Linked DNA regions of Homo sapiens: region 1 is linked to region 2. Evidence: fine-mapped expression QTL. A gene starts in region 2. The other region holds a variant in brackets. All regions are shown on one strand. Distances are from middle to middle.

Evidence for each region. PIP is the estimated chance that this variant, and not a neighbour inherited with it, causes the effect.
Region 1: its variant is fine-mapped to the expression of CKMT2-AS1 in minor salivary gland (GTEx, PIP 0.92).

The regions. Positions count from the first base shown.
Region 1 is chr5:81,227,206-81,238,709 of GRCh38, forward strand. RASGRF2 (Ras protein specific guanine nucleotide releasing factor 2) reads left to right here. Exons shown (of 27, transcript NM_006909.3): 27 at 1-2,957. It overlaps CKMT2 (creatine kinase, mitochondrial 2), which reads left to right and starts at 6,117. Exons shown (of 10, transcript NM_001099735.2): 1 at 6,117-6,172. CKMT2-AS1 (CKMT2 antisense RNA 1) reads right to left here. Exons shown (of 2, transcript NR_034123.1): 2 at 10,360-11,504. The variant A/C (reference allele first, on the strand shown) is at 5,111.
Region 2 is chr5:81,295,193-81,306,696 of GRCh38, forward strand. CKMT2-AS1 (CKMT2 antisense RNA 1) reads right to left here and starts at 6,377. Exons shown (of 2, transcript NR_034123.1): 1 at 6,095-6,377. It overlaps ZCCHC9 (zinc finger CCHC-type containing 9), which reads left to right and starts at 6,395. Exons shown (of 6, transcript NM_001131035.2): 1 at 6,395-6,506; 2 at 9,549-9,949. The coding sequence starts at 9,566. RefSeq lists enhancers at 6,124-6,913, 6,477-6,576, 6,727-6,906, 6,914-7,703.

The DNA.
Region 1 (11,504 bases), 68 kb before region 2:
GTTGCTAGAGCTAACAGACTAATAAATTCCACCTGCTGGCTCTTAAGACTCAGTGAAAGAGCTAGCATTGGTAATGCACCATAGAGGTAGAGAATGTACACTTTCTGCACGGTAAGTGCCATCTCTGTATGTAACTATATAGTGAAATATCAACTAAGTAAAAGAAAATATAATATTTGAAGACCATTCCCAAAATATTTTCAATAGTTCATATTAGCCAACAGTGTAGCACTCAACCCAAGGAGGGTTCCTTATGGATGCTTTCTTTTTCTTTTTTAAAGTTGCTTGTTTGTTCTCTTTAGTTTCAAATAAGAGGTTGACGCATCTTGATGCATGATGAGAAGCATGGGCTGTTTGGATCCTAACAACGCATAACTTGTGATTTATTTCTCAGTGCTCCAGAAACTGAGGGTTTGAAATAATATGTATCAGTTGCACCAAACACCTCAAGGTCTTGCAGAAGAAAAGTAAAGGTTAGCTTTCATGGCTCAAAAGCATAGTCCTGAAGGGTGAACTAAAACCGGGACAAATCTGTGAGAGGACCACACACATACTAGTTTCGGGCCAAACAACACGTGGAAAGGTGCATGCATTCTACTCTGCCTTGGAGTTGCCAGAGTCCTTCAGAGGGAAAGGGATGGTTCTGTGTGCACTTTTTCTGGAAGTTCGGACTCATTTCTTTGACCCAAATGTTCCAGAGACACTGCAGCCATTCTTATTAACAAAAAATAAGACAGGAGTTTCCAAATGCTCCTTCCCTTTTGGATCGCAGCTTTTCTTCAACTAGTGACAAAGCTTTTGCGCCTATTTCCTGCAGGATGTTGGAACTGCCCCGCACTGGTCATATTAGGCACTGTCAATTGCTATGCTGACTTTTAGGGGGTTTTTGTTTGTTTGAAAAACAGGGTCTCACCATGTTGCCCAGGCTGGTCTCGAACTCCTGGACTCAAGCAATCTTCCTGCCTCAGCCTCTCAAGCAGCTGGGACTGCAGGGGTGTGCCACTCACTAGCCTTTCGCATTTTTGTTTGAGAATTACACCACTTTCTGGAGTCTGCAGCCTTCCTGGAGCTGCAAGAGGGCAAGAGAGAGAGCTCCACCTCTGAGGGAGTGTCTGTTGATGACCTGCACTATTCGTGTGCCAGCTGGGAGAGGAATGCACATTTTAAAATCCCTTCAATTTGGTCAAATTAAAAATCCCCAAGAGCAATTTGCAGTGTTTTTTCTGGTCGTTAAAGTACCCATCCTCTTCTGCCTACACACAAAGCATGCATTCCCAGCTGCATCTGCCTCTAGTCCATTATGGAGACCCATTTCTAAGAGGAGATGGGAGGTCAACCTCTAACAGCCAAGTAGCGAACATGTATACTGTAAAATTAACCTAGAAAATCAGAAGAAAAATCCAATTTCATGCTTTCGAATGAATGCCCACATTTTGTACTGTCAACGAAATTATCTTGGAGCTTTTAGGGGATGCCTTTTCGTTATTAACTGAGACATCTAGTTTTGCTACAGGGACAAATCTCTTACCTAATCCAATATATTATTTGACAGATTCAGGCATGAAGTAAAACGTCGTCACTTTTCCTTAGTGCTTTTCTGAAGGAATTTAAAGACGGAATTTTAAACGGCCATTGCAATATTTTCAAGTGGCTCTCATACCAAGTCCCATTACTGTTTGTTAAATTTCAGTACGTCTTAAAGTACTACTTATAAACAAATGAAACTCAGAGAAACTGAATCACCTGGAAGAGAAAAATCCATTATGGTCCCATGTGGAGTGAATAATGATGGATCAGCACCCTTTCTCTCATGTTATTGTATAAGACGAGACTTTTGGGCCAGCAGCGATTGGGCAGCTTTTAAATTCTTAACTGAAAAGAGTAATGCAATACAGGGATTATTCCCAATAAAATTAACTTTTATTTAAAAGCAAGAGATTTTACTTAGCTTTTTTTTTTCAAAGTTTGATTTTATCCCCTTGAAAAAAAATCTCTTCACTTTAAAGTATAAAGGTTTTTAAAAATCCAATTGCAAAATGTATTATTTTTACAACTATCGAAAAGGCATAAAAGAGAACATACTATTTATGGCTGAAGGGTATAGCCAGGCTAATGTGCACAGAGGGAATCAATAAATAAAACTCTTTTTCATTTCAGTAAGAAATCAGATTGTAAGTTTAATGGCTCCATTATAGATACCACCGTGTAATAGAAGACTTAAGTCAATGAAATCTAATCAGTGTGTCATTTCTCAGCGGCCATTGGTGACTTAAAATTAAGATGAGGCAGAGCCAAAATGGAAAACAGTCATTTTGTTGTAGGTATAAACACATGAACGATTCAGAAAATTATTCATCTCAGCTGCCATGCAGCATGACATTAACATTAGGATTGATAGCACTAGTCTGATCTGCTCAAGGAAAATAATAGTTCTATTATACTTAATGATGTTGGTTTTTACACAGCTCATTTCATTTTTCACTAGAAAGCCAGTTATGAAAGAGAGCTGGCCTAGGCATCCCGGCCCTGAGTCCTAGGCCCAGTCTCCAACTGGAAAACCTTAGGCTGGTGTTTACACATCCCTGAGCCTCAGTTTCCTCATCTGCAAAACGGTGTGAATAGTAATCCCTGTGCTGCTTATCTCACAGGGCTATTGTGAGGACCAAATGGATTAGACTGTAAACTGCAAAGTGCTGTCCGCACATGAGGTCATCTGATTACTGTCCTCAGATCTCTTTTGTAGAGGATTTCAATGTATTTCTTTATCATTTGAGTGTGTGTGTGATGGACGAATATGTGTGTGAGTTTGAGAAGCATATCGTTCGTGTCCAGTTACTTTGCAAATTTGTGGACATTTGTGATTGGACAGAGGGGTTTGTGCTGTGGCCTAACACTTGCCAAGTGAGGTGTAGGTTATGCCTATATGCAAATTAAACTTCACCTTTCTTGAATATTCAGAAATCTCACTGGTTTCTTCATTTAACTCTTTTTCCCCCCATTTTTCTACATTGTCAACTTAAAACCATGAAATGTATACATTTAGAAAAAATAGAACTTAATTTCTTATAAAGGGTTACAATCTGCAGGCTGGAGCCTCTGGCCAAAGCCAAAAGCAAGCACTTCAGATAAAAAAGGGAGAGGCTGAGATTTATGCCCAACAAGATGAGCCTTACATATACATTTAGTAGGTTATAGGATAATCTTATGAATATTTATGAGAGGCCCTAATGCATGCATAGCCAGTAATCATATATGTTACATGTTACATACAACCCATGTTCACTTTGGGATGGAGACTTAAAATGTAGTAAAATTGGGCTCTATATGTCAAAAGATGGAACACAGGGCACAAAGACGCTTGGTGTGCAATCTCTGTAAACCGGCCAGAACCGGCTGTGGTCTGTGGTCAGTTATGAGGATGGAGTGCTTTGTAAGGCTGAACACTTGTCAGGGGGAAACTGCGTTGAGGGAAGGGGGGGTTCGCCACGTCAGGTTGTCTGTTGAAGTTGAGGAAGAAATCTTCCAGACATAGTTTTTCAGTAACTGGTTTTAGTTTAATTTTAGGAAAGAAAGTCTTGAGGCAGTTATCGAGGTGGGAGAGCGTTGGGTGTGACTGACCTCTTGCCTTGCCAAAGCTGTAGAATCTGGTTTTTAATGTTTCCTGGGGTCTCTTTTTACCACAATGAGTCTGTTTTGTTTTGCTTGGGGGCCTAGGGGCTTTATTTTTATTTTACATCTTCTTCATAGCAGTGAACTCCTTCAGATATATTATTTACTTCTAAATATTACTTCTAAAGTTCAGGGAGAAAAACAGTTTAGAAGAGGCCCTAAAATTCAAAGAATTTGGGGAAAGCTTTGAAATGATACGAAGGATCAACTAATCACACTTTCTTTGCAGTGCTTAGATTCTTCCTGTGACATCCCCAGCCTATATTTGATACCTCCAGGCACAGAGAACTCACTACTACCTGGAACAGCTCAGTCCATTGCACAGCAGCTCAACGCTCCTGAATGGGTGGTGGAGAGAGGAGAAGCCGCCAGGGTAGAGTCCTGGCCTAATAGTCACCAGGCTCCACCTAGGAGGGGCTTCTGAAATAAGACTCCTGTCTACCCCTAAAATAACTGCAGTGGTTATATGGATTACTATATATGAAAATACTTTAACTTCTATGAAGTTGTGGCAACATTTAGAGCTGATGGAATTAAGTTACAGTTGCTGGACACAAGAATAGACTAAGGAAAGGGGTCCCTCCTGCCCAATTCTGAAATGAGCAATCCAGGCTGGTGCGACAGAGGAACCCAGGTTCCTTTCATCCTATTACTTGCTCATCCCACAAGGCGTCATCCTTGCCTTCGAGGTCAAATCTGGGGCCTGCTCTAGCCACACTCCTGCTGGACTCAGGAACAGAAAAGAGAATAAGTCCAGGACATTTTCCTTTAAAGCAAATGATATGGCAGTCGCACACTTCAATTCTGTTCCTGCCCTTATGGCAGAAGCCAGCCACAGGGCAGCCTGGTGTGGCTAGAGCCCCAGAGCTTCAAAAGGAGTTGGTAACGATGAGAAGGGAATAGATGCCATGTGACAGGGATGGCATTTGAAAGATTTCCAGAAAGCCAGAATTTCTACTGTGAGTCCCTTGTAGAGATTTCATCCCCATCACACCACCTTTATAATAAGCTTGAAGAGGACCAGTCCCCCAAAAGAAGGGTGGTACCCTCTTTTCTCAACAATGACCCAATTTTTCTTCTGACCTTACTAACATAAACATTTACTCTATAAAATATAAGGTGTTGAGGTCGGGTGAGTGGAGGGGGCCCTAAATGTTGATTAGGCAATTGGGGAGGAAAAGGAGGTTTTTGCTATAACTGCCATTCTTTAAATCTACAATTCCATGCTCTTTAAAAGCCTTATAATTTTCTGGATCTGGGAGCTGGGCTATTTCAGGGTCAATGGATTTATTTCAGTTGGTGCCTGAACTGACTTGAAACAAGTGTGTGTGGAAAAGAGCTATTTTGAGAAGGAATAAACCGAGACTGCCCTGATGATAGAATATGCAAGCTGGTGGGTCTTGACTCCTTAAAGGATTATGAAATTAATTTGATTGGTCCC[A/C]ATCTTTATATAACCACCCCAATCAGGAAACTTCCCATCCCGCCAAAAGGCCCCCTCACGTGCTCTCCCTGTCAGTACCCCATGCAAAGGTAAAATAGATGATATTTTTAAACATGGGTCGTGTTTAAAAGAAATGGAAACTCCTTCAGAGAATGAAGGAGAACCACACTGGGTAGAAGGTTATTCCTGGGGCTCCACCCCTTGCTCCATCAAGTCCTCTGAGCATGAGCTGGGCTCTGAGAAGGAAGAGACAGGAACCAATTGGTCATGTCCACGTGGCCTCAGAAGCTGAGTACGTGACGGTCACCAGATGCCTAGGCAGGCTCCCTTGAAATGGCAGGGCTGCTGTCCAAAATCCTGCTGGGTCATTGCTATTTACAGGCAGCCTTCCCGGCGTGCGGTGGATATCCCAAGCGGGGCTATTTTTAAGCAGGGCTATGGCCTGCCGTGGGTTAAGCTGGTGTGGACAGAAAGCGAGATGATCTAGCCATCTACTGCAGGGGGCCTGATCTTGAACAGAAACCTGACTGTAATTGTCCCTGGATCCAGGTCCCAGACAAAGACGCTGGAAGGAGGTCCCTCCAGCCCCTGGCTCAGGGCCCGGTCAGCTGCTGGAGCCAGGCAGCTTGAGACATCCTCCTCTCCGACCTTGGCTTGAGGGGTTCATCCTCCAGAGCTCACCAGGGCCCCAAGGCTGGTACACCTGAGAGAAGAGAGAAACAAATCCCCCAACAGATGTGCAATTTCACCTGCTGGCCCTTCCATTCTGAGATCCAGAGCCCTGGCAAAGGAGCCTCCAGGACCAGGCCTGGGAAGCAAGACTGGCTCCGCCTTTTACGTTTCAGAGAAAGGGCAGGTGCTATAAAGGGCCCAGCGCCCACGGGCCTGCCTTCAAGGGTACAGCTGTGGGGGCCGGTGCGCCCGGAGGTCTACGCTGGGATTGGTGAGGTCCTCTGGCCCCGCCCCGCCAGGGAGGATTTCCAGGCCGGCCCGACCAGCTCGCCCTGCATACACTTCTTGGCTGTGTGCGCTCAGCAGGACGTGGGAGGCTCCGGCTTCAAGGTCGGTGAGTCCGTGAAACTCTGCTTTATTCCTCCAAAGAGGGGTCATGGCTAGAGCCAGTGTGAAGGGCCTTGGAGGAGTGGATGCCGGGCTGTAGACGGGGACCCCGTTAGGACGCTGACTGCGAGGAGGCAATGGTGACTCGCTAAAGCCAGCAGAGCTCCCGCCCTTGGCCGAAGCGACCCCTCCTCCCTGCACACAGGTGGGGGCAGCTCAGCACCAGGAGCAGAACAAATCAGCACGCTGCCTGCAGGGCCTCTTTTTGGTAGTGAATCAGGAATTTTTCTCGATGGAAAAAAAAATCTAAAGGCTGTATTTTGACGCTAAGTTTGGGACAACTTTAAACTTAAAGTGTCTTTCCCTTGTAATTCACAGAGTCTAATCCACTCATTTCTGGGAATGTTTTTCCCCAGCAGTCTCAGTCTCAAAAGACATGTAAATCAGTGACTTGGGATGAACTAACTAGAAAATTAAAATTTTGAGAAGCTATTTGCTCATAAGCCCAATAGCCAGGCCCAGTTTAAACGGGCAAATAGTATTGCTAGAGATTCAGTTTTGCCGTCACTAATACTAACACATTGATAATGAGACAAGTAACCGTCTCCCCTCCCCACCATCCTTACCTTTCCCACCGGAGGTTAATTAAAAAAAAAAAAAAAAAAAAAAAAACCTATGGAATTGGCCCCACGTGTTTCACCTGGGCAGAGGCCTGTTCTTCACTAGCTTGCTTGCTTGGTTGGTTGTCCCGGGGTTAAAATCAGTCCTGTTCTTGCCCCTAGAGTGGTCTGCCTTCAAATGCTCTCCTCCGAATGTGAGGAAGAGTGACATTTGACAAACAGACCAAAACCTTTAGGTCTCCTCAGTGCTGCCCTTTAGACCTTCCAGAAAGTGTTGCCAGGCTCGTGACCCCTCACAGTGTCAGCTGAGTCAAGTGAGGGGCAGTTAGTGGCCCTCAGGACAAGGTTACGCTAGGTACACCAGTGTGCTGTTTCCAGAAGGGCTGCTTTTCCTGTCTACGGCTCTCACATTTTCTCTGTTCTGAACTCGTGTCCTTGGTCTGTTCTCTCTGTCCTCTCATAGAGGCGAGCATGGCCACAGCATGTGGCCAGAGACTTCCTGACAGGCAGGCTCTTCCGGGAGGCTCTTGGCCTTGTTTGGCGGTCTGAGCACTTCACTTCCTCTGCATTGATAGGCACCTTTTCCAAAGACCCCAGACTTTGGAGTTAATCACGCCTGTGGGTTAAGGCACTGTCACAGCAAAGCACAGGAGTGCCACATGCACCCCATGGACTCTGCCAGCCTCATGACCAAATCATATCATTAGGAAATGGGCCATAGGCAGGTCAGTTTTCCTAAGGAAACTGTGGGTTGGGTCGGGGGGAGTACCATACAGAATGGGGAGTCCTGGGGTTTCAGACACAGGAGGGAGACTGACTTTGCCCCTAGCTCAGAGGCCCTGGGCCTCCATCTCTGCCATAGCCTACAGCAGGCTCCATTTGTCTTCCCAAAGGAAGCCACGTAGAGTCTGTGTCAAGCATTCTGGGAGCTCCTGCCCACAGAGCCAGGAATCCAGCAGCAACCCATGCTGAAGGTGACTGCTGGAGGTCACACTAACCCTTGCCAGGAAGCCTCAGAGACTCCCTCCCTTGGGCGGGGAAGAAGGCAGCCCACTTCACAGCACTTCAAAGGACTAGATGGCTCCTAGCTTCCTGTTTTCTTGAAAACAATTTACCCTTGAGGGACAAAGTCTGGTAACGGTCCCATGCCTTCATCACAGGAGGCCTAGGAAAGGCCTCTGTTTTACAGAGTAGGATTCTAAATATCTCCTTCCTGCCTAGGACTGTCTATTTGCTGAGTAGAACAGTAATGCCAAGAGTGCCCATTAAGGTTGGCTGCGTACTAAGTGGTTTTGAGGTAACGCACACCCTTTGCTATCTTAGAACTGGGAGGAGACAGGCATTTTCTGCGGCCTAGGAGCCTGGCATCGTGAGAATTTGTTCAGAGTGTTCTGTGGAGCTGGTCCAAGCCCAAGGACATCCTCTGTTTTGGGGTGGCTCTCTGGATGGAAAGCTGACACGTGGTCCTCCTCCTGCCCTTCCACCTGCCCTCTGGCTGAGGAGTTCAGACACATGGACGCTGTGAATGGCTGGACCAGAAATAAATCTGAGTCAGCAGAAAGGCAGACATGGTCCATCCGGGATGCCCAGGAAGAGCAGGGGGCTCGGGCTGGAGGCAGTGACAGAACCCAAGGCCTCCTCTTCACATTCTAGGATGTCACAGAACCAGAGAAGAGCATTAAGACCAGGATCTGAACTCCCAGTATACCTGCCTGGGACCAAGAAATGTACAGCTTGTGGCCACTTAACAAAAGGGCTTGATGTAGCTGTCGTTGTTTTTTTAATGCGGAGGGCAGTGTAGGAACAAACAGGATATTATTGCTTTTGGCTCTGTCTGGCTGTGCTCTTGCACCTCCCCATCGCTCCAAATCTCCCTGGCTTGGAGCCCAGGTATTCTGCCAATTTTAGCCTAGATGCTGTAAGCAGTGTTTTTCAATTCAGGAGTCATTGTGGTGTTCCAGGTTAGGGAAACTGAGGCAGAAAGCTTCTATGGGGTGAGAGCTGGAGACCACCTTCCTCTTCACACTGGCACAGCATCCCTAGCAAGGCCTGGCAGGCACATTGAGCACTAGAGTCAGAGTGGAGCGGGCAGAGATATCCCTGGCGTCTGGGTTACTTCAGCGGGAGCCTGAGGACAGGGAAAGAGAACAAGTTTATAATCTGCAACTTTAGAAGTCATATGCCCTGAGGTGACAATCCTGTGCCTAGGAGCTGCTGTGTTAAATGCACTTCTACGGTCTTGGGGGTTTGACTGAGTGGAATGATCTGTGGCACCACAGGTTTTAAGCCACAGGGGTGGTTTCCCTCCAATTGCTGGTCAGTGAAGGGCTGTATGTGAGGTGCTGCGGTCTGCAAGGAAGCTGAATCCAGTGCAAAAGACAAACCTGGGTTCAAATCCCAGCTCTACTAGTGTGCTGGCACTGAAACCTGGGGCAGGTCACTTCTCTTGAGCCTCTGTTTCCCCATGCCCAAAATAAAGCATACTTGGCAGGATTGTTACATAGACTGATTGTGTTTGTAAGGTCCCTTACATAATGCATGGCTCATGATAGGAGCTCATAAATGCTCAAAAAGAAGACAGAAGGTTTGACTCAGTCGGTGTATAGGGTTGGAAAGGATATTCCAGGGGAAAGAAAACACTCAAGCAAAGGCTCAGAGGTGGCAAAGTGAAGGACCTGTTCAGTGATGCCAGGAAGTCATTGGAGACACTGTTGGAGGGGTGGAGTCTGGAAGAAGAACTGGGGAGCCCAATTGGTTAAATCCATTTTGTGAACCCCGATGTTGGTTTTCAGAGGATGATCAGTAGATCTGAAAGTATGTGATAGACACCTTTGAAGTCTTGTCCGCAGAGATAGAAAATACAAATTAAAAGAAGGCAGCTGTGGTGGTTCACACCTCTAATCCCAGCACTTTGGGAGGCTGAGGCAGGTGGATCACTTGAGGTCAGGAGTTCGAGACCAGCCCGGCCAACATGGCAAAATCCCATCTCTACTAAAAGTACAAAATTAGCCACATGTGGTGGTGGGCGCCTGTAATCCCAGCTACTTGGGAGGCTGAGGCAGGAGAATTGCTTGAACCCAGGAGGTGGAGACTGCAGTGAGCTGAGATCGCACCACTGCACTCCAGCCTGGGTGACAGAGCGAGACTCTTTCTCAAATTAAATGAAACATTTAAATGCGAAAAATGTAAGTTAAAATCAAAAAGCATTCAGAAAAGGGGCAGGCCGAGTGCTGGCTGGAATAATCAGGTGTGGCTTTGGGGAGGGAGTGATGATGATCCCATAGCCTTAGGGTCATCAGGGGAAGGGACTCATTTATTCAGTGCCTACTGCAGCCTGTCCCGTCGTCTTCACAACACCTCACAGGGAGACCTCATCATGCCCATGATGGGGAGGAGCTGCTGAGGCTCGGGTGGGTACCAAGCAGGGTTCCTACACCTAGCGGGGCTTGGTAACATCCTGTAATCGGGGAGCTTTTTCTCATTATACATGTGAGGGCCCCACTCTTGGAGAGACTCATTCAAAAAAGGTGGAGCCTAGAAATCCAAAATTTTAACACACATCAAAATTTTCTTTTTTAGGTTTTTACTTTTTTATCATAAAGATAACACATGCTTATTTTTACAAGTGATACAATACAGAGTTCCATTAAGAGAAAATTAATCTGCCTTCTCCGAGTCCGTTACTCTGAAGCAACCCTTTTAGCAGTTTGATGAATATCCTTCAATACTTTTATGTTCATACAAATACATGAAAATGTATATGTATATATACATCATTGTTACAAATTGCAACCGCTCATATTCAGTCCTAAGCAAGTTTTTCTTTTCCTTTTAACCTAAAAAGGTGTCACAGATGGGCCTCCAGGTAAGTGGAGGCAGTTTTAACTCCTTTAATAGCTGCAGAATATTTCACCATCTGAATGCACCAGCATTTGTTGAGTGGCAGTGCTGGGCTTCTCAAACTATCTGTGGCAAAATCTCTTATTAATTTCTAATCCATAGCAGACTCACACATTTGTAAAATATGATAAAGTGCAACTATTAGAAAAAGAGAATAAGGCTGGGCGTGGTGGCTCACACCTGTAATCCCAGCATTTTGGGAGGCCAAGGCGGGCAGATCACGAGATCAGGAGATTGAGACCATCCTGGCTAACATGGTGAAACCCCGTCTCTATTAAAAATACAAAAAATTAGCTGGGCGAGGCGGCAGGCGCCTGCAGTCCCAGCTACTTGGGAGGATGAGGCAGGAGAATGGCGTGAACCCGGGAGGCGGAGCTTGCAGTGAGCAGAGATCGCGCCACTGCACTCCAGCCTGGGCGACAGAGCGAGACTGTCTCAAAAAAAATAAAAAAACAAAAACAAAAAAAAACCAGGCATATAAAATGCCAGCTCAAAATTTAAAAAGTAAAATGACTATCAAAGTGCTGTAGGTGTTCTAAATGCTTAATCTCAATTCCTGTACTTACATCGTCACGAACTGCTAACAGCCCACAGACCACACTTTGGCAGCATTGGTCTGGGGTCAGCCTTCCCTAAGTTGAAAAAATCACTCTTCTGTGAAGACCTTGTCACTTTTCACCACCTCCAAATTCAAGTCCCAGGTCTCACAGTTTGTTCCTTTGGCTATGGCTCCAGTGCCACGTGCTTTGGCTCCAACCTGTCTCTGCAGTCCCTCCCCTGCCTCTGCCACTCATGGCTCCTGCCTCTGCACATTC
Region 2 (11,504 bases):
ATACCCATGTAACAAACATGCACATTCTTAAGAATGCTGTGTTTCACAAATTGCACATTCTAAATTCAAATTGTTTGCAGATTTTGTGATAAGGGAAAGTATACATAGTTAACACCTTGATTCTTACATTTAAGAGTAACTTAAGTAGTAAATAAAGGAGAAAGATGTAAAACTGAGCTTCAAGAGAATCAAGTAAATACTACTCATAAAATGGTTAAACACAAGTTTTTAAAAAATTTTTTTTATATTGTGGTAAACATACGTAACAAAATTTACTACTAGTCATTTTAAGTGTACAGTTCTGTGGCATTAAGCATATCCACAATGCTGCATAACCATCACTACCATTCTAAATTTCAGTTTTAAAAACCAACATCCAATACAGGAAAAGTGGCAACACATGTAGATTGAATACTGTACCTTAGGATTAGGTCTTAAAAGTCCTTCTTAGTATTTAAAAGAAGAATTTTTAAAAATTTTATATATATATAATATATATAAAATAGATATATCATATATGATATCTCTCTATATCATTAGATACGTCTATATATGTCTATATATCATATATAATAGATATATCTATTATATATCTATCATATGATATATATCATATATCATATGATAGATATATCTATTACATATTATAGATATATCTATTATATATCTATATCTATTATATATTATATTTAATAGATATATCTACATATAATATATATTATATATTATATAATAGATATATCTACATATATTATATATTATATATAATAGATATATCTACATATTATATATAATAGATATATCTACATATAATATATATTATATATAATAGATATATCTACATATTATATATTATACATTATATATAATAGATATATATCTATTATATATTAGATATATATTATATATCTAATATATATTTAATTATGTATAGTATATATAAGATAATAGATATATCTATAATATATAGTATATATCTTATATATACTATATATAATAGATTAATATATCTATATTATTATATATAATATTGGTTATATATAATAGATATATAATTATATGTATCTATTATATATATATATCTCTATCTGGTTTGCTGTACTTCTCCAAGACATACTGTTTAGAGATCTAAAAGCCACATACACTCAGTGTAGCTAATCTTCCTCTCTGAAAACTTGCTGGTGACTTCCATATAAAGCTTCCCTGGGCAAAACTACACAAGTGCCTTCCTTCATTTGCTCCTTGAGGAATTTAAAATCTGTTTTTTTTTTTTTGAGACAAAGTTTCATTCTTGTCACCCAGGCTAGAGTGCAATGGAGCGATCTCAGCTCACTGCAACCTCTGCCTCCGAGATTCAAGCGATTCTCCTGCCTCAGCCTCCTGAGTAGCTGGGATTACAGGTGCCTGCCTCCACGCTTGGCTTTTTTTTTTTTTTTTTTTTTTGTATTTTTACTAGAGACGAGGTTTCATCATGTTGTCCAGGCTGGTCTCGAACTCCTGACCTCAGGTGATCCGCCTGCCTCGTCCTCCCAAAGTGCTGGGATTAAAGAAGTGAGCCACCGCGCCTGGCCCTGTTTGTCTTCTTTACCAGATTCCTCTGGGGGTATGAACTGTGTCCAATTCATCTTCATAGAGCTCACCATTAGACTCTCACATCTTCCGGAATATATGTAAATGTGACTTTCTACATCTTCTTGGTCCATAAATGTTTCTTAAATATTTGTGGGACCTCTTTTCCTATGATCATTTATTTGCTATGCCATAGTTTTGGGCAGGTTATGTTTTTCCTCGTATGTGGTCCTCTTAAATTAGTTCATCTGAAATCATTAATTACTGTACTGTTTTTACCCAGACTTACTGGTAGATTATTTTATATAGTAGTTACTAAATCAGTACGAAATATTTTTGCCACTTGGTTATGTTCACTTTGACCTTTTATGAAGTACTAGCATAAATTTTTATCTCTTTTTTGTGTATATGTCAGCGTGTGTCAGTCTTATCTGCAAAAGCATTTCAGCTTATTGGAGAGGATTTTAGATCGAGTACATGTATTTATTTTTTACTGACTCCTCCTCCTCACCTCCCTGATCCCTCTCTCCAGTTGTCTGCAACACATTCTACTGTGAAGTTTTTCTTAAAACTTCCCAGGAAGAAATATTTTATCTGTAATCTCTATATCACCATAATTCCCTCACTAATTATAACATCAGCTTATTAGTGGTTTAGCAATCTGTCTTACTCTCACAGGCTCTTGGCTGCTTAAGGGCAGGGACCTCTCTGTCATTTGTATATATTTAGCACTTAAGGTACTGGCAAATAGTAGACATCAAAAAGTGCTTTTTCCTCACCTATCCTATTTTACAGAATTCCATTTGTAACTGCAAGACCTCTCATTGTTCCTTGGAATGGACAGTCTAAGGCCCGTATCTGGTATGATTTCCTCAGACATAAGGAGGAGGAAGTACGCATTTCAGAGAATAAAGGAGAGCTTGCAAATCTTGCCACTTGTTTGTAATTTAGGTTTAAGTATTCATTTGAAGCACTTAACATCCTAACCACCGAAACACATGATTAGGAACTCAAATTTGAGAAATACAACAAGATGGTAAGATGAGTCAGAAGGATACATCATTTTTGTGATTAGTGTTCCAACACTATTCTTTATCACGTTTAAGCAAAGAAGATGAAAGAGATTCAAGCTTTTTCAGAGGGTAACACAAACTTTATATTATTCCTATTCCTTATTGCCTAGGAACCTCAAGTAACTTCCACTAATAGGTTTCTCTTGCTCCACACTTCCAATAGATTTTCTTTCACTTCTGAAATAAAGCAGTATTGCTTGTAATTTTGTTACTGAGAAAACCAACAATGCAAATGAAAGCATGTTAGTTAACAAAATTCAGTCACTAGCATTGTGTTCTATGGCAATCACTTAACTTCTCTGAAACTTAATTTATTGATCTGTAAAACAAGAAGATAGGGTTTTAAGAGGTATGTATTTCTATGAGTCTATAATTAGAAATTCTCATGTGCTGTGTCAAAACTCCCATGGATTAAAAATAACTCTTTAATAATGATTCTAAATGTAATACACACCCATTAAAGAATATCTGTAAAATTATGTATAAAGAAAAAAACCCTCACAATCCTATTACTCATGGGCCTTATTGTAAGGATCCTAAAGCAGCTAAAAATATCACTGACAGGTTTTTAAGATGTCAGAATGTCACTGGTCTGGATCTTATTTTTATTTCCAACAGCAGGGTCATTAATTTTTTTCCTCTCTCTTCTGCTGTATTTTTCTGCATACTATAAAAAAGTTCAATAACTGCCCGGAGAATGCATTAGGTACAGTTTTCCACACAATCCTCTTCTCCAGATCTATTTTATGGGATCTCCTGTATGATCTAAAACACTATCCACAGTTGTTCATTGCTTAAGCTCTAATGGATAAAGTTTGAACACTATAATTTCACATTTAAAAACACTTTAATTTGGCAAAATCTCATCCCAGCCTTCCTTTCCAGATTCACTGTTCTCCGTTCCAAATTGCTCTATAGGTAAACTGGCTGCCTGGAGGCTGTTCACTCTAATGTGTGAGTCAGTTAGAGGGATGGTCCACCCAGGCTGGGCCTTGGACACTTCTAGTCCTCATCACCTATTGGTCACTTCATCTAGGGTGGCCAAGCGCCTAATATTCAGAGAGAATCTGGGCAAGAATGAAGATTTAAAATTCTAATGGTAGTGGTTTCAATTCCTGGTAATATGGAATAAGCACACTCCACTGTCTCTGCCAGTGAATCAAGCTATAAATCAGCAATTTGAGGACTGGAAAAGAAACAGCAGCAGGAAAATTGAGAAGACGACCAGAATTCCTTATTTAACATTTACCTTCCTGATAATATTGTTATAAAAAATACATTTACAGTATTTCAATAAGTAGATGGGAAAACTGAATACAAACATAATCCCTTGAACTGTAAAAGTAAATACTTTCCAAAAAAAAAAAATCGAATTTGGGCAAGGATAACTTAGTAAAGTGTTTTAAAGTGGATCAAGTAGACAAACAATCCTCTGCAGTATTTCAAAGTAGCAGAGCACACAGGTTTGGATTGAGATCTTGGTTCAAATCCTGACTCTACCTCTTATTAGCTGTCTGACCTTGGATAAGTTACGTCAGCTCTGTGAATTTATTCCCTCATTGCAAAATGGAGAAAATAATAGTACCAACCTCACAGAATACTGAGTGGACTAATTAGGTAACGAATGCAAACCATTAAGCATACTGCTGGCACCTATAAAATGTTCAGTAAAGTTAGCTATTAGTAGCAATAGTTTCCTCCGAATTCCAAAGGACTTATTCTACGCCCTATTTGCTCAACTACTAATCTTTATTGGACATACCGCTACAAAAAGAAATCGGTATGTTCCTTTGCTTCCAAGAATGAACGACCTACAGTTTAAAATGCAATATACCACTAAAAAGAAAAGTTTTAGTTAAATGCGCCCTCTAGTGGTATGTTATGTGTAAGTACCTTGCATCTACCAAAGATAAAACCTCTTCATGAAATGTCACTACCCTGAAACCAGCTGGTTGAGATCATTACAGTATGGGCAGCACTACCACACATCTTTTAGGAAGTTCCCTATCTTCAAGAGCTGGAAGTTGCTGTTGTTTGTTTGTTGTCTTTTAAAACTTTCTCCACCATATGAACTACGGTATTTGTGATATGTACCATACCAAATCTCAACATTCCTACAAGCACTGACTTTAAAATCCCTTCTCTTAAAGAAAACTGGGCCACTTTCTAGTTTGCTTTAAACAAACATCGCAAAGTACTTATTCTTCATTTACTTAACAAATACGAGGGCCAGGCGCGGTGGCTCACGCCTGTAATCCCAGCACTTTGGAGGGAAGAGGTGGGCGGATCGCCTAACTCAGGAGTTTGAGACCAACCTGGCCAACATGGCGATATCCCATCACTACTAAAAATACAAAATCTAGCCGGGCGCGGTGGCGGGCGCCTGTAATCTCAGCTACTTGGGCGGCTGAGGCAGAAGAATCGCTTGAACCCGGGACGCAGAGGTTGCAGTGAGCCGAGATCGCGCCATTGCACTCCAGCCTGGGCGACAAGAGCCAAACTCCTTCTCAAAAAACAAAACAAAACAAAACAAAAAAACAAATACGCAGTGAGCACCAAGGATGTACCAGGCAATGAGGATACAATAAACTTACACAATTATTGTGTAATTACAAATGTGAACCGTGTCATAAGAAAGTATAGACTGCCGTGAGCACACAGTAGGGGATTGGTCTAGTATGGGGGTAGGGGGCTGGAAGGCTTTCTTGAGAATAAAATACTTAAAGCCTTGAAGGGTGAGTAGAAAGTAACTGGAAGAAGAAAAGGAGTACCATACAAAGAGACTAGCAAATGTAAAGGCCTGGAGATGGCAAGGTACACACGGCATTTGAGAAATTGAAAAAATGATCCTATGCACGGAGCTCAAAGGAGAGACTGAGCAAGGTGAGGCTAGGGAAGTAGGCAGGGACTTCATAAGGAGTTCGAATTTCATCCTAAAACAATGGGAAGCGAAGGGAGAGTTTAAAGCAGTACAGCAGTACTGCTTTAAATGTAATGATTTACATTTTCAAAAGTTCCGTTCCTACGACACGGAAAATGGATTTCAGGGAGTTGGGGCAGAATGAATCCCCAGACCAGTTGTAGAACTACAGGTACAATATGGGACAAGGGAGGAGGTGCCAACAGAGATAAAAAGAAGTGGACAAATATTCAAAAGGTTAAATGGATTGAGCAAACTGTTGAGAGTAGTGGTCCTGGTAAATTGCATTTTTTCACTAGGCACAGCTGGTGGTGGTATCCATTTGCAAGAAGCTACAGAAAATGAGCCGTTTGGAAATCCAGGGTTTTCCTCTTAAAAAGAGAACTTGTTTGGCTACAAAGTGTTAACATTTTAATTGAATGCTCAACGAGCACTGAAGGGGGGACATGAGGCACTGCCTCTCACCCAAGAGAGCCCCCAAATGTCCTTTTCAGACTTTTATCACAGTGACCCACTCCCACCGCGCCTTTACCTTGCCTCTGCCTGGAATGTCCTTAACTCCCTCTTGCCGGCAATTTCACCAGATTTTTGATTTCTTATCCAGTCTCACGGGAAGCCTTTCCGGCATCTCCCACCCTACCGATCTTCCCGTCTATCTCGCCTGCTACACTGTGAGTTCAGACAGCACGGATTGAACTCTTCATCTTTTCGTGTCGGCGTCCTGCACAGGGCCATCCCATCACTAAGCGCGCCACAAACTCAGCCCAGTATTGACGCCCACGAGTCGCTTGTAAAGACCGTCTGTGACGCCGGAAGTGACGCGCTCTCGGGCACTATGTGCTTCCGGTCTCCAATACCGCAGGAGGGCGGTCTTCCCCGGCTCGCCAACTCGGCTGCTCTGGGGGATTCGTGCGCGGTAAGAAGCTGCGCGGTAGCGCGGTGAGGTGAGGTTCTCAGCCACCAAAGCTGCAGGGTCTCGTCGTTCGTTCCCTCTGGCCTGGCGGAACTTGCGTGGGAAGCTGGGAGGACAGAAGGCTTAGCCGCTGGGTCCCTGAGCTGGCTGGAGCGCGGGCTGTCTAGGGGCGGCGACCTCAGCTGTTGGGCTCCGGCTGCTGGGGGCTGTGCGTCCAGCCGCCCTGGAATCCGCCTGTGGGTGGGCCGCTTGGCTCTCCCACTTCACCCTCTTGATAACCCAGAGCCTCCCCCTTCCCACGTACGTAGGGGAAGGATAATCTACTTCCTTTTGAACAGCTTCGGTCCCCACTATGACAGTCGCATAAACTTCAGCGAAGAGTGCGCTGGTAAAGTGGCATGGAGTTTCTCACACCAATTCATTGGGTCCACCCTTCAGCTTCTGTGGAAGGGGTCTTTCTGTTACTAGGAGCTGAGACTTGGGGGGTTGCCAGGGATGCTGGTCTTAAAAGGTGATAATTTAGGCCGGGCGCGGTGGCTCACGCCTGTAATCCCAGCACTTTGGGAGGTCGAGGCGGGCAGATCTCCTGAGCTCAGGAGTTCGAGACCACCCTGGGCAACATGGTGAAACCCCTTCTCTACTAAAATACAAAAAATTAGCTGGGCGTGGTGGCACGCGCCTGTAATCCCAGCTATTCGGGAGGCTGAGGCCCGAGAATCGCTTGAGCCCTGGCGGCAGAGGTTGCAGTGAGCCAAGATCGCCCACTGCACTCCAGGTTGGGCTACAGAGTGAGACTCCGTCTCAACAACGACCACAACAACAACAAAAAAGGTGGTGGCTTAATACAGCCATGCTCCCCTTAAGAACTGGTATAGTTATGAGAAATGGTTGGGCCGTTTCGTGGTTGTGTGAACATCATAGTGTACTTGCACAAACCTACACAGCTGGGCCGTATGGGATAGCCTGTTACTCCTAGTCTACAGACCTGTACAGTATAACTACTAAATACTGTAGGCAGTTGTAAAAGGATGGTGTGTATCTAAACACAGAAAAGATACTGTAAAAATATAGTGTAAAAGAAAACATGGTACAGCTGAATAGGGCACTTACGCATGGAGCTTGCAGGGCTGTCGGTAGCTATTAAGTGAGTCAGTGAGTGGTATGTGAGTGTGAAGGCCTACGATATTATTTAGGGTATTACTGTACACTACTGTAGACTTTATAAATGCGGTATGCTTAGTCTAAGTTTATTAAAAATAAGGTAATAACCTTAGCTTACTGTGCTTTTTTAACTTTATAAACTTTTAAATTAATTTTAACTCCTTGACCTTTTTTTTTTTTTTTTGAGACGGAGTTTATTCTCTCTGTCTCTCATTTTTGAGACAGAGTTTTGCTCTTGTCACCCAGGCTGGAGTGCAGTGGCGCAATCTCAGCTCACTGCAACGTCCACCTCTTGAGTTCAAGCGATTCTCCTGCCTCAGCTTCCCAGGTGGTGCGCGCCTGTAGCTGGGACTACAAGAGTGCGCCACCACGCCCAGCTAATTTTTGTATTTTTAGTAGAGATGGGGTTTGACCATGTTGGCCAGGATGGTCTCGATATCCTGACCTTGTGATCCACCTGGCCTTGGCCTCCCAAAGTGCTGGGATTACAGGCGTGAGCCACCATACCCGGCCCACTCTTTTGTAATAACACTTAGCTTAAAATGCTAATGTGTTGTATAGCTATATAAAAATATTTTCTTTATTCCCTTACATTATTCTATAGCTTTTTCCTGTAAAAATTTTTTTTGTTGTTATAAACTAAGACACACACATTGTGCCTACACCGGGTCAGGAGCATCAATATCACTCTTTTCTTCCTCCACATCTTGTCCTACTGGAAGGTTTTCAGGGGCAGTAACATGAATGGAGCTGTCATCTCCTATAATAACTGCTTTTTTCTGGAATACTTATAATTGTCTAGTATTATGTACAGTACATCATTGTAAGCATTATGCTTGTATATGACTGGCATCCCAGGTTTGTTTACACCAGCATTACCACAGACATGAGTAATGTGTTACACTACAAGTTATGAGGGCTACAAAGTCAATAGGAATTTTTCAGCTCCATTATAATCATCTGAGACCAGTATCATGTGTGCAGTCGCTGTTGACCTAAATGTTATGTAGCATGTGACTAGCTGATGAATCTTTGATTATGGCTGAATGTTCTCATTCATTGCAGGAAAAAAATATCCTCCAAATCACTAGGTAGTATGTAAGTGACCAAAACTTTTTTCCATTTTATGTTGGAGCCAAATCATTAGTGTTAGGATAAATTACTTCTTTATGTATGTGCTCTAAAATGAAAAGTTATTTCTGAATATTAAAGCATATGTATTAAGAGTATAAAAACAAGATACAGATTTTGGTGTGAAATATATCTTATGATTCAAGTCATAATTTAAATAGAATTGAAGATGATGTGAAATCACTGGGCTGGAAGTAGCTTATACCTTGATTAGTAAGAGGAAGCCCGGGATCATCCTGTGATGGTAAACACTTTTATATGTTTTACTTATAACTTTGCCAGGAAATTTCAACAAACTTCATATTAAAGGACATGATTTCTGTATACTTAGTAATCTGCTATGCAAATTGTTGCATTGAAATGGCAGACGAAGCAAGAAGATTGGGAGAAAGTAGCTGTGGGACTTGGAGATAGGAAAATAAACAGCCGGGAAAACTGCAGAATGTGGGAGGAATAATTGCATTCATTGTATTACTATCTGATTTATATTTTATGAAATAATTTGGTTTCTTAAGATAGTTTTTCAATTTTAAGCACACCTTTTTTAACTGGTGTGGCAGCTTTTCTGGTAAGTGGTAGATTTATGTTAGAAGCATGTCTATGCAGCATATTATAGCATTAAATATGTATACAGATATCTAACTGAAATAAAAAGTGTTTTAATAATTAAAAGTTTAACATATGGGCATATGTGACATATAGTGATATAGCATGTCTCTTTAGTTTTGTTGTTTTTGTTGTTGATGGCTAACCACCCATGCTTGTCTTAAAAATTGATAAGGTACCACTGATGAAATTATGACCAGGTGGGCCCGAGTTAGTACCACATATAACAAGAGACCCTTGCCTGCAACATCATGGGAGGACATGAAGAAGGGATCCTTTGAGGGAACAAGCCAAAACCTACCAAAGCGTAAACAACTTGAAGCCAATAGGCTATCCCTCAAAAATGATGCACCCCAAGCAAAACATAAAAAGAACAAAAAGAAAAAAGAGTACTTAAATGAAGATGTGAATGGATTCATGGAATACCTAAGACAGAATTCACAGATGGTTCACAATGGGCAAATTATAGCAACAGACAGTGAGGAAGTAAGGGAAGAAATTGCAGTTGCTTTAAAGAAAGACAGTCGACGGGAAGGAAGAAGATTAAAAAGACAAGCGGCAAAGAAAAATGCAATGGTGAGAGCATCACTTCTACCATGTTATTTACTTTATTTAGCTGGAAACTATTCTTATATTCACACACATATATACCTTAGCCAGCTCTGGTTACCATTATGTCCCAGATTTATAGAGCATCGTTTTAAGGACTAGTACTTTTTTAGCACATATATGCTAGGCACATGATGTACTGGTTAATTATTACAACAACACAGCAAAGGTGATGGCATATATTCCCATATTATGGATGGCAAACACTGAAGTGCAGATAGATTAAATAACCTGTGGAAGCCACTTAGCTAGTAGCAGAGGTGACATTCAAACCCAGCCTGACTTCAAAACCTACGTTATAGACCAGATGTGGTGGCCCATGCCCGTGATCCCAGCACTTTAGGAAGCTGAGGCGGGAGGATCACTTGAGCCCAGGAATTAAAGACGAGCCAGGGCCACATAGGGAGACGCCATGTCTACCAAAAAAAAAAAAAAAAATTAGCCAGGTGTGGTGGTACACACCTGTGATCCCAGCTACTACTGCCAGCTGAGGCAGGAGGATTGGGCCTGGGAGGTCGAGGCTACAGTGAACCATGTGATCAACCGCTGCATTTCAGTCTGGGTGACAAAACGAGAGTTCGTCCTCCAAAAAAACCAAAACCTATCCTCACCTTCCAATAGCCCCTTTTTCAAATTAGCATTGAGAAAATGTCAAAATTATGAAGAAGATGAAGTAGAACAGGTTAAATGTGTGTGGGTCCCTATTACTTGGAAAGGATGTTCTTTATCTATGAAATACTGAAGCACAGGAAAGAGATACATAGGAGTCATACTAGTTAGAGCAGAGTAATAGCAGAATTGAAAGTCCTTGAGACTCCCTAGTCATTGCTTCCTCCCTCCCCCATATTACATTCAGAAGAATGCTGGGGGCAGCAGGTTTCTTTCTCTAATGCCTAGCCCTAGATTTTAAAGTATGTCAGGCAAAGGGGATGAAATACTTGGTATAATTATTTCCCTTCTCTAAGTGAGTTTCCCAAGCCTCCTAGTACACCACTTCATAAGAATGAGGACTTGTTGCTAGTTATTATACTTTTATTTTTTATTAGTATTACTATATGTAGAGCACTGTTTGCACCATTGCAGGCTTAAAATGTTAACAGCCTCTATAAATGTGTCTTTTGGCTGTTTGCAAGATTAGTCTATGCATTGTTATATTTAAAGATAGTTATTTAGAGATAATACTGATGAAACATTCCTTATGGATAAATTTGAATAGAAAGGATAACATTTCTGTTGGTATCAGGATAGAGTTTTGTGTAAGTTAACGATTTTTAAATATTTTAAGTCATTTTAGTTTAGTTGACATAGGCGGTATGGTGAATCACATACCATTTGAAAACATTTACTGTTATGACCGCTTAAGAAAAGCATTATGTTTGTAATTAAGTGGGGAAGGATATTGTTTTTTAAAAAGGGGAGTGCTATATAAATAGTATATGGCTTGTTATGACCTGTTGTTAAATTTACTTCCTTGGTATTTTTTTAATACCTTATACTAAGCATCGGTCCTTAAATGCTAATA